Regions from separate parts of the Homo sapiens genome. Here region 1 is linked to region 2. The links come from fine-mapping of genetic effects on plasma protein levels. A gene starts in region 2. The other region holds a variant in brackets. All regions are shown on one strand. Distances are between the middles of the regions.

What was found. PIP is the posterior inclusion probability: the model's chance that the variant is causal. Sun 2018 read protein levels with aptamers (SomaScan).
Region 1: its variant is fine-mapped to the plasma level of the UCMA protein (Sun 2018, PIP 0.95).

Annotation. Positions count from the first base shown.
Region 1 is chr10:13,260,759-13,266,132 of GRCh38, reverse strand. No RefSeq gene overlaps it. Among named protein-coding and RNA genes, the nearest start is that of UCMA, 29 kb to the right of the region's middle. The variant G/A (reference allele first, on the strand shown) is at 2,573.
Region 2 is chr10:13,231,954-13,237,327 of GRCh38, reverse strand. It overlaps UCMA (upper zone of growth plate and cartilage matrix associated), which reads left to right and starts at 2,954. Exons shown (of 5, transcript NM_145314.3): 1 at 2,954-3,127; 2 at 3,528-3,593; 3 at 3,695-3,790. The coding sequence starts at 3,070. RefSeq lists an enhancer at 2,341-3,251.

The DNA.
Region 1 (5,374 bases), 29 kb before region 2:
GATCGCACAACAGTGACTGTGCTTGATGCCACTCAACTGTACACCTAAAAGTGGCTAAGATGCCAAATTTTATGTTATGTGTATTTAACCACAATTTTTTTTTTTAAAGAGCATAAGATTTTTAAAAGGATGACGGGAACTCTAAGCCCAAGGAAAAAAGGTCTCTGGTTTTCCCGTTAGTCCTAAAATTCACAGAAGGGGAATCTTTCCTGTTTGTTTTGTTTGTGCCTTGTGTGAGCACCTCATAAAGTCTTTTTTTGAGACGGAGTTTCACTCTTGTCGCCCAGGCTGGAGTGCAACGGCACGATCTCGGCTCACCACAACCTCCGCCTCCCGGGTTCACGCCATTCTCCTGCCTCAGCCTCCCGAGCAGCTGGGACTACAGGCACCCACCGCTACGCCCCGCTAATTTTTTGTATTTTTAGTAGAGACGGGGTTTCACCGTGTTAGCCAGGATGGTCTCAATCTCTTGAACTCATGATCCGCCCGCCTCGGCCTCCCAAAGTGCTGGAATTACAGGCGTGAGCCTCTGCAACCGGCCACACTCTTCATTTCTTGCTTCTTCCTGGACACAGTTCAACATTGATCCTGGGGGGTTTTGTGACTTGACCCTGGGGGTATGGTCACTGGAGCTGCAGCTAACCCCCCAGGAAACACAGCTTTCTCTCCACCACGTGATTTGCAGAATCTCTTCCTGGTCTGAAACCTGCATTTCCTGGTCTGCAGTCTTTTCCTAGACCAATGACAGAGCCAATTAAAAAAAAAAAAAAAAGGACCAAACCCCACACTCAGTCCCTAGCTCTCCTTGGAGAGTCCCTCGAATGCTCCCCGCAGCCAGGCCTCAGGAGAAACCCCGGCTGCTCTATGTACCTTCCTATACAAGTCACTGAACATCTCTAGACCTTAGCTTCTTCATTTATAAAATAGGGCTGCATGGAGTGCTTTGCAAAGTAAATAAGAGTATTGGATATTTTTCTCTTTTGTTCTTATCATTTGTGGAGAAACCCATTCAGACTTCACTTGGTAAAAAAGATCTTAAAATTGGGTCTAGAGCTGGGCACAGTGGCTCACACCTGGAATCCCAGAACTTTGGGAGGCTGAGGCAGGAGGATCGCTTGGCCTCAGGAGTTCAAAACCAGCCTGGATAACATAGTGAGACCCATCTCTACAAAAGACAATACAACTATCTGGACATAGTGGTGTGCACCTGTGGTCCCAGCTACACAGGAGGCTGAAGCAGGAAGATCACTTGAGCCCAGGAGGTTGAGACTGCAGTGAGGATGATCACACCAGTGCACTCCAGCCTGGGCTGGAGACCCTGTCTCAAAAAATAAGGATGTATTTATCAATGAATATGACAAAACTCACCCCCAAATCAGTCACGACTATGCCTCGGATGTTGCTGGAAACTGGCAGGAGGGGGAGAGCTCCAGACCACCCATAATCTTGTGTTGATTCCTCGTTACCCCGATGGGCTCCTGTGTCTTCCTCCAAAACAAGAAAAAGACAAAATCACACATGTTATCTTCCATCATCCTGTGGCCTGGAGGATCTCAGGTAATTCCTATACACTGCCTATTTTACAAGAGTGAATGTATAAAACAAATGTTTTTTTAAAAAAACACCTGGGCTGAGCACAGTGGCTTACGCTGTAATCCCAGAGCTTTGGGAGGCTGAGGTGGGAAGATCTGCTTGAGGCTAGGAGATCGAGACCAGCCTGGGCAATATGGTGAGACACTGTCTCTACAAAAAATTTAAAAATTAGCCGGGTGTGGTGGCATGCATTTGTAGCCCCAGCTACTTGGGAGGCTGAGGCAGGAGGATTGCTTGAGCCCAGGAGGTTGAGGCTGCAGTGAGTCGTGACTGCACCACAGCACTCTACCCTGGATGACAAAGTGAGACCCTGTCTCTAACAAACAAACAAACAAACAAACCAAAAAACCCTGGGTTTCATACATAATAGGTGATGATCTGCTTATTATTAGGACAGTCTGCCTCATTCCTTTCTGGTTACTAAAAAGAGGTGTGGAAAACATGGGCAGGTTGAGTAGGAATGAAAATAATTAAAGGGTTAGAAGCTAGGGCTTCAAAAATGACAAATATGGCTTTAGGAAAAGATCTTAAGCGGACCAAAATTTCGACTGATCAGAAAAGTTTACATGTGTTCCTTCTGCACTTCTGATCCAGTCCTCAGAATTTCACTCCCAACAGTCTCACAGATGCCTCCAGTCACTGGAACAAACCCCCTTTTCATACCTCCTTGCACAGGAGACTTGCCTCACACAAGCCCACATTCACCCACTGGGTCGCTCTTGTACCATGACACAGACACCCTTTCATGCGTTCCCTCAACAGAGAGACCCAGACGCCGGCCAACACATGTGTGCACACACTCACACCACACACCTCGCACCGGCACTCCAGCCCTTGTCCCCTCACAGTTGCCTGGCCACCCTTCCCACTTCTCCCAGCTTTCAACCAAGCCCTCCACGTCAATACCCTTTAGTAAATATTTACTGAGTGACCATGATGTTCCAGGCACTATCACAACCCCTGGGAGAAACAGAACTGA[G/A]TAAGATATAGTCTTTGCTCCCAAGGAGCTCAGAGTCTACTGGAGAAGCGGGCAGCAGAGGGAGAGCAATCTCCTACAAATCTATGTGCATGGAGTAAGGCTGAACCTAGAAGTGGGGTCATGTACAAGGAAAAGTGAGGGCAAAAGGGAGAGAATGGGGTGGGGCACACAAGGAAGAGAAGGTCACTTCTACCAGGAGAGGTGAAAGGAGAGAGGCATTGAGGAGAAGAGGGTGCTCAGTCATAATCTGGAAGAATTAGAAAGTCTTTGTCCAATAGGCAAGGGAGTAGAGGGCTGCTCACCAGAGAGAGAATGTCAAGAAAGGGTAAATCCACACAGCATGGCAAGAGTGTGTTAGTTCAGAGCACAGAGGGTGAGACAGCGGGAGAGACAACTGGAGAGGTCAACAGGGATGGATGATGAACATCCTTTTACACCACACATAGTAAATTGGAGTTTATTCAATGTTCAATGGTAGGCCGGGTGCAGTGGCTCACACCTGTAATCCCAGCACCTTGGGAGGTCAAGGCGGGTGGATCACCTGAGGTCAGGAGTTTGAGAACAGCCTGGCCAACATGGTGAAACCCTGTCTCTACTAAAAATAAAAAAAATAGCCAGGCATGGTGGTGCACATCTGTAATCCCAGCTACTGGGGAGGCCAAGGCAGGAGAATCGCTTGAACCCAGAAGGTGGAGGTTGCAGTGTGCTGAGATCACACCACTGCACTTCAGCCTGGGCAACAGAGCAAGACTCCTTTTCAAAAAAAGAAAAAAAACATGTTCAATGGTAAATAACTCAGGATGCTTTTGGTGGTAACAGAAAAAGTCAACTCTACAGGCTTAACCAATAAAGAAAATGCATTACCTCATAAAACTGGAAGCCCAGAGTAGGGCACATTCTGTCCTCATCAGATCAATCATTCTTCTCATGATCACAAAATGACTGCAGTGGCCCCAGGCATTGCATCTCTACACACCGTCCAGAGGCAAAATAGAATTCTATCCTTTCTTTGTGTCTCCTTTTAAGGACTAGGGATCCTTTTCTTGTGCTCTTTTTAAAAGTTAAGAATCCTTTTCCAGAATCTTCTGCACTACTGTAGTCTTCCTCCCTGCCTCAAGTTTGTAAACCCCTTCCTAAGTCAATGATTAGCAACGGATTGCCTTGACTGGCTTAACCAATCAAGATCAATGAGGAGATGGGTCCAGGTGTCTCTGAAGCACGTGGATGGCGGAGAACTGGACAGAATCTCAGCTCTGTTGACAAAGAAGGGGGTGGTAGGGTGCTGTGCATCATTGGGGGATTGTAGGTGGTATTGTCATATGATCAAATTTGCATTGTGGAAAGATGGTTTTGGCCAGGCGTGGTGCCTCTTGCCTGTAATCCCAGCACTTTGGGAGGCTGAGGCAGGTGGATCATGAGCTCAGGAGTTTGAGACCAGCCTGACCAACATGGTGAAACCCCATCTCTACTAAAAATACAAAAAAAAATAGCCGGGCGTGATGGTGCATGCTAATCCCAGCTACTCAGGAGGCTGAGGCAGGAGAATCGCTTGAACCTGGGAGGCAGAGGTTGCAGTGAGCCGAGATCACACCATTGCACTCCAGCCTGGGTGACAGATTGAGACTCCATTTTTTTTTTTTTTTTTTTTCTGAGATGGAGTTTTAACTCTTGTTGCCCAGGCTGGAGTGCAATGGCGCGACCTTGGCTCATAGCAATCTCTGCCTCCCAGGTTCATACGATTCTCCTGCCTCAGCCTCCCAAGTAGCTGGGATTACAAGCATGTACCACTACGCCCAGCTAATTTTGTATTTTTAGTAGAGACAGGGTTTCACCATGTTGGTCAGGCTGGTCTCGAACTCCTGACCTCAGGTTATCTACCCACTTCTGCCGCCCAAAGTGCTGGGATTACAGGCGTGAGCCACAGTGCCTGGCTGCATTGTGGAAAGATGAATATGACAATAGCTTGTAGAATGATGACAGAGAAGAATGAGACGCAACACAGGAAAACTGCTGTAGCAGGGGTGGAGATGAATGATAGCCTCAATCAGTCACATGCATTCAGGGAAGCAGCGACAAAAGTGATCTTTTAAAAAAAAATTGAGATAAGGTCTTGCTCTGACACCCAGGCTGGAGTGCAGTGGCTCAATCACAGCTCATCACAGCCTCAACCTCCTGGGCTCAAGTGATCCTCCCACATCAGCCTCCTGAGTAGCTAGGACCACAGGCATGCATCACCATGCCTGGTTAATTGTTTTTTATTTTTTGTAGAGATGAGTTTTTGCCATGTTGCCCAGGCTGGTCTCAAACTCCTGGGCTCAAGCAATCCTCCCGTCTCAGCCTCCCAAAGTGCTGGGATTTACAGACATGAGCCACTGTGCCTGGTCAAGAAAGGAAATTCTGACACATGCTACAACATGATAATTCTTGAGAACATTGTGCTAAGCAAACTAAACCAGACACAAAAGGACAATTACTGTGTGATTCCAATTATATGAGGTCCCTATAATAGTCAAATTAATGGGGACAGAGAATAGAATGGTGATGGAGAAATGGGGAGTTAGTGTTTAATGTGTGCAGAGTTTCAGTTTTGCAAGAAGAAAGAGTTCTGGAGATGGATGGTGGTGGTGGTTGCCCAACACAATGTGAATATACTGAAAACCACCCAATTGTCCACTTGAAAATGGCTAAGGCCAGGCGCCATGGCTCACGCCTGTAATCCCAGTGTGTCCGGAATTGGTGGGTTCTTGGTCTCACTGACTTCAGAATGAAGCCGCGGACCCTCGCGGTGAGTGTTACAGCTCT
Region 2 (5,374 bases):
TACAGGCATACACTACCACGCCCAGCTAATTTTTTGTATTTTAGTAGAGATGGGGTTTCACCATGTCGCCCAGGGTGGTCTCAAACTCCTGAGCTCAGGTGATCTGCCTGCCTCGGCCTCCCAAAGTGCTGAGATTATAGGCATGCGCCACCACGCCCAGCTGAAAAAATTTTAAAAATGATTTACCCAAGGCTGACTCGCCAGTGACGGGCACAGGTGCCTGGTGCATGGCAGCAGGTGTTCAATACAAGTTTGTGGCTGAAACAAATAGAATTAAAAAGGCACAAGTGGACTTAGGGTATGGAGGATGTCACGGGTTTGTCACATGTCCGCTTTCTCACTGGACGTCCCATCAAAATCGCTCAGCCCTGTGTCTGTCCCTCCCCTCTCCCAGTGACATCCAGTTCATTTGATAGATGAGCCCTGTGGCTCTGTCCTCATGCATTCGTTCAGCCATGTAGAGCCCTTGCTCCCATGTTCAGTGCAGGCCAGCCAGTATCCCAGGGGAGCCCACGTAGGGCCAGCCAGCATAGCCATCAACCCCATTTTCTTCCACTGGAAACCAACCCTTTATTTTGTTTACTCTGTCTCAGTTATTTTTCTGCCTTAACATTCTTTTCCTGGACGACGGTAAAGTCCATGAGGGATGTAAACATGAAAGTCTTTCTTTTCTTTTCTTTCTTTTTTTTTTTTTTAGATGGAGTTTCGCTCTTGTTGACCAGGCTGGAGTGCAATGGTGCGATCTCAGCTCACCGCAACCTCCACCTCCCGGGTTCAAGCAATTCTCATGTTTCAGCCTCCTGAATAGCTGGGATTACTGGTGCCCACCACCACGCCCAGCTAATTGTTGTATTTTCAGTAGAGACAAGGTTTCACCATGTTGGCCAGGCTGGTCTTAAACTCCTGACCTCAGGTGATCCACCTACTTTGGCCTCCCAAACTGCTGGGATTACAGGCATGAGCCACTGCACCCGGCCTTTTTTTATTTTTTTGAGACAAAGTCTCGCTCTGTCACCCAGGCCGGAGTGCAGTTGCGCAATCTCGGCTCACTGCAACCTCTGCCTCCTGGGTCCAAGCGATTCTCCTGCCTCAGCCTCTTGAGTAACTGGGATTACAGGTTCATGCCACCACGCCTGGGTAATTTTTGTATTTTTAGTAGAGATGGGGTTTTGCCATATTGGCCAAGCTGGTCTAGAACTCCTGGCCTCAACTGATCCACCTACCTCAGCCTCCCAAAGTGCTGAGATTACAGGCATGAGCCACTGCGCCCGACTGAAAGTCTTTCTTTTTTTAAATAGACATGGGGGTCTCGCTATGTTGCCCAGGCTTATCTCCAACCCCTGGCCTCAAGTGAGCCTCCTGCCTCGGCCTCCCAAAGGGCTGGGATTTCAGGCTTGAGCCACTTTGCCTAGCTAACATAAAAGTCTTGTAAGAGGGGAGCTTCAGGTAGGTATGGGCTGGGTTCTAGGTCTAGTGATGGTTCCCATTAGACAAACATTAAACGATGCCAGAAGGCTGACAGCAAAGAGTTGATGGTTCCTAACAAAGGCAACATTAGGAACACATCTCCAAGGGGACTGAGCTCTAATGGCCATGTTGGTGCTGATTTCATTAGTGGTCCCATTTCTGGGAACCCATTTCCTCCCCTACATGGAGTATGATGTGTGTCTTCCTAGAGATGCAGGATTAGCTGTGGAGCTTTTCAGATACCTGCCCTTCTCCCCCTCCGCTGTGGAAGGTGATTGAATTTGGCCTTGCTGTTTTTAAATTTTTTTTTTTTTTTTTTTTTTGAGATGGAGTCTCGCTCTGTTACCCAGGCTGTAGTGCAGTGGTGCAATCTCGGCTCACTGCAAGATCTGCCTCCCGGGTTCACGCCATTCTCCTGCCTCAGCCTCTCTGAGTAGCTGGGACTACAGGTGCCCGCCACCACGCCCGGCTAATTTTTTTTGTATTTTTAGTAGAGACGAGATTTCACCGTGGTCTCGATCTCCTGACCTCATGATCCGCCCACCTCTGCCTCCCAAAGTGCTGGGATTACAAGCGTGAGCCACCGTGCCCGGCCGCTGTTTTTAACTTTTAAATTTTTATTTTATTTTATTTTATATGTATTTTTTTTTTGGGACTGAGTCTTGCTCTGTCACCCCAGCTGGAGTATAGTGGCGCGGTCTCGGCTCACTGCAACCTCTGCCTCCCGGGTTCAAGTGATTCTCCTGCCTCAGCCTCCTGAGTAGCTGGGATTACAGACGCCCGCCACCATGCCCGGCTAATTTGTTTATTTTTATTTTTAATAGAGACAGGGTTTCACCGTGTTGGCCAGGCTGGTCTCGAACTCCTAACCTCAGGTGATCTGCCTGCCTCGGCCTCCCAAAGTGCAGGGGTTCCAGGCATGAGCCACCGCGGGAAGGCAATTGACTTTAAAGGGCTCTGGGACCCGCGGCCCCAGGAGTTTGTGTTTGGCTTGGCAGTGAGCATCAGCTGGAAGCAGTGCATCAGGTAAGGTGTTCTCTGGTCGCTGTCAGCATGACCCACACGTCTGTGTGTCACCCTGATGGGTATTCCAGTCATTATGAGCCCTTCTTGACTGACATTTAGATCAAAACTCCCCCATTGATCCTCTCTTCCTCCTTGCCCCCACCCATGCTTCAACCCTGAGGACCGGGGCCCTAACGTCCCTGGAGCAGGTGCCAGGACCTCCTTGACACAGGCCTTGGTCACTGGAACCCTGACTGTTAGGATGAGCCTTCCCAGCAGCAGATCCCCAGACACGGACATTGGAAAGGCCACTCCAAGACCGTCCCACCCAGGGCCCTAACTACAAGCTCTGCTTCTGGAGACATTTGCCAGGTGCCAAAAACATCTCCGTTGCTCCATCTAGGAGCAGCCAATGGAAAGGGCAGCCCAGCCCCCTCCTCCTCTCCCCCAGTGGTATCCCAGCCTCCTGCCTCTCTCTTCCCTCCCCCGCCTTCCTTCCTCTCGCCTGGGCTGCCTGCCTCAGAAGTGGGGACCCAAAGGGTGCAGGACGCCTGGTCTGCCTTGTGGGTCCTGGACGGAGCCCCTACCTCTGCAAAGATGACTTGGAGACAGGCCGTCCTGCTGTCTTGCTTCTCCGCCGTGGTGCTCCTGTCTAGTGAGTACAGGAGGGTCAAGGTGGAGGGTGTTAGTTACATGGTAAGGGAGACTTACCATGCACAGGTAAGGCTGCTCAGGTGATGCAGGTAGAAAGGAGTATGCTTATTGTTAACATGTGTGTATGTGTGTGTCGTGTGCATGTAGGACACAATGCAATACAGAAAAATAATAATAATAATAAAAAACAGTAAAGAAAGAAACAAAATAGAAAAAAAACCCAAGCCAGCTTGCTTGGTGGGTTCCTGGGGAGATTGGCTCTGCAGCTGGTACGTGAGAAACCACGGGCCCCCTGCCAGGCCCTGGCAGGACGCTTAGCCTGGAAAGAGAGATGGGGACTCAGCTCAGGGTCTGGGCTCCCCTCTGATGCTGCAGCCTCACTCTGTGCCCTTGTCCTGCAGTGCTGAGAGAGGGAACCAGTGTATCTGTGGGCACCATGCAGATGGCGGGAGAAGAGGCGAGTGAAGGTGAGTGCAGGGGCCACCCACGGGGCAGGGCAGGTGCAGCCAGCGAAGCAGCAGCCCCAGCACCCCCACACTGCTGGTGACAGGCCTCTCCCGGGTTTCAGATGCAAAACAGAAGATTTTCATGCAGGAATCAGATGCCTCGAATTTCCTCAAGAGGCGCGGCAAGCGGTCCCCCAAGTCCAGAGATGAGGTCAATGGTAAGGATGCTGGAGGGACCCCATCCCGCGTCCATCACCACCTCTGCTCACACCCCCCGGCTCCTCCTCTCCCACAGTCAGCCGGGCAGCAGGATGCAGCTGGGCACGAAGGGCTCACCCCAGGGTATCAAAGGGACTGCAGCTCTGAATGAGAAATTACACCCTATTTCCTGACTGTAGGTCGTATATTGGATTGAATACTTTGTCAGGGTTAGGAGGCCCCACCTCTGCAAAGATGACTTGGAGACAGGTCCTCTTGTCCTGCTTCTTGGCCATGATGCTACATTAAACACACCTAACAGGGATAAGATGCATTGGATTTCAGAAAGGTGTAGGGAGGGAAATCTATATTCTGGTCTGGAGGCGACCCACACATCAGTGTGTGCTTTGCGGGTACTGGTCCAGCACACCTTCTGTATAAGAGCAACAGCATCGCACATGGGGAAGGCACAGGACACTGGGTGCTGAGAAATGTGGGTCTGGGGACAGCTGTGCTGCTAAGTGGCCTTGGCTACTTCCTCCCTCTGGTCCTAATTTCCTTATTTATAAGCCTCTGAAAGAGCTGTGTTCAGCCAGCAGAGGTTTTTTTTTTTTTAAGTTTTCATTTTCAACACATTGGGGTGAGCCTGTCTGTTGCACAGCCTGCTGTAGGGCCTGTGGAGCCCCGGCTTCAGGGTCCTCATGCCCTTCACCTGCCAACCCCTGAGGGCATTTGAGTTTCTACTCCTGAACCTGCTTCTTCCAAGATGCTGAGCTCAGACAGTATCTCCCGAGTCTCTGGCTTGAGTCTTTCCTCCTCGTGCCTGTGGGTGAATGAACTCTTTGTATTCTTCAGGGCACTCAGCAAGGTGACTTGCTTGGTAAAAATAACAGGACTGTTTTCAAATGATGGGAAGAACAGAGATAGAAATGCTTGGAGATGAAATTTCTTTTTTTAAAAAAAATTGAATAAGTATAACCGTGCTAGGAAAACCTCCAGGCCTCATACAACTGGAGATTTAAAAGTTGGCCAATGTCAAGAAGCACTGAAAGGTTGGGAGGGGGGCTGGACTGTTTTTGATTAAAATGGGAGAAGCAATCTTCTGGCAGACTTCCAGGGGAAACAGGCATGATTTTAGGCCAGGCAAATAGCTTCTGTCCTCTTTTTTTTTTTTTTTTTTTTTTTTGAGATGGAGTCTCACTCTGTCGCCCAGGCTGGAGTGCAGTGGCAGGATCTTGGCTCATTGCAACCTCCACCTCCCAGGTTCAGGTAATACTCCTGCTTCAGCCTCCCAAGTAGCTGGAATTACAGATGCCTGCCACCACGCCTGCTAATTTTTGTATTTTTGTAGAGACAGAATTTTGCCATGATGGCCAGGCTGGTTTCGAACTCCTGAACTCAGGTGACCCCCCTGCCTCGGCCTCTTAGAGTGCTGAGATTACAGGCATGAGCCACCGCGCATGGCCTCTTCTGTCCTCTTAAGCTGACTCCAAACAATGAGCTACACCATTTAGCCTGAAGTGCCTTACCTCGGACAGAAGCTCAGTGTGTCAATTAGTCATGGGAGGTGCAGGACAGCCTGGTGAACACCCAGGATTGTGCAT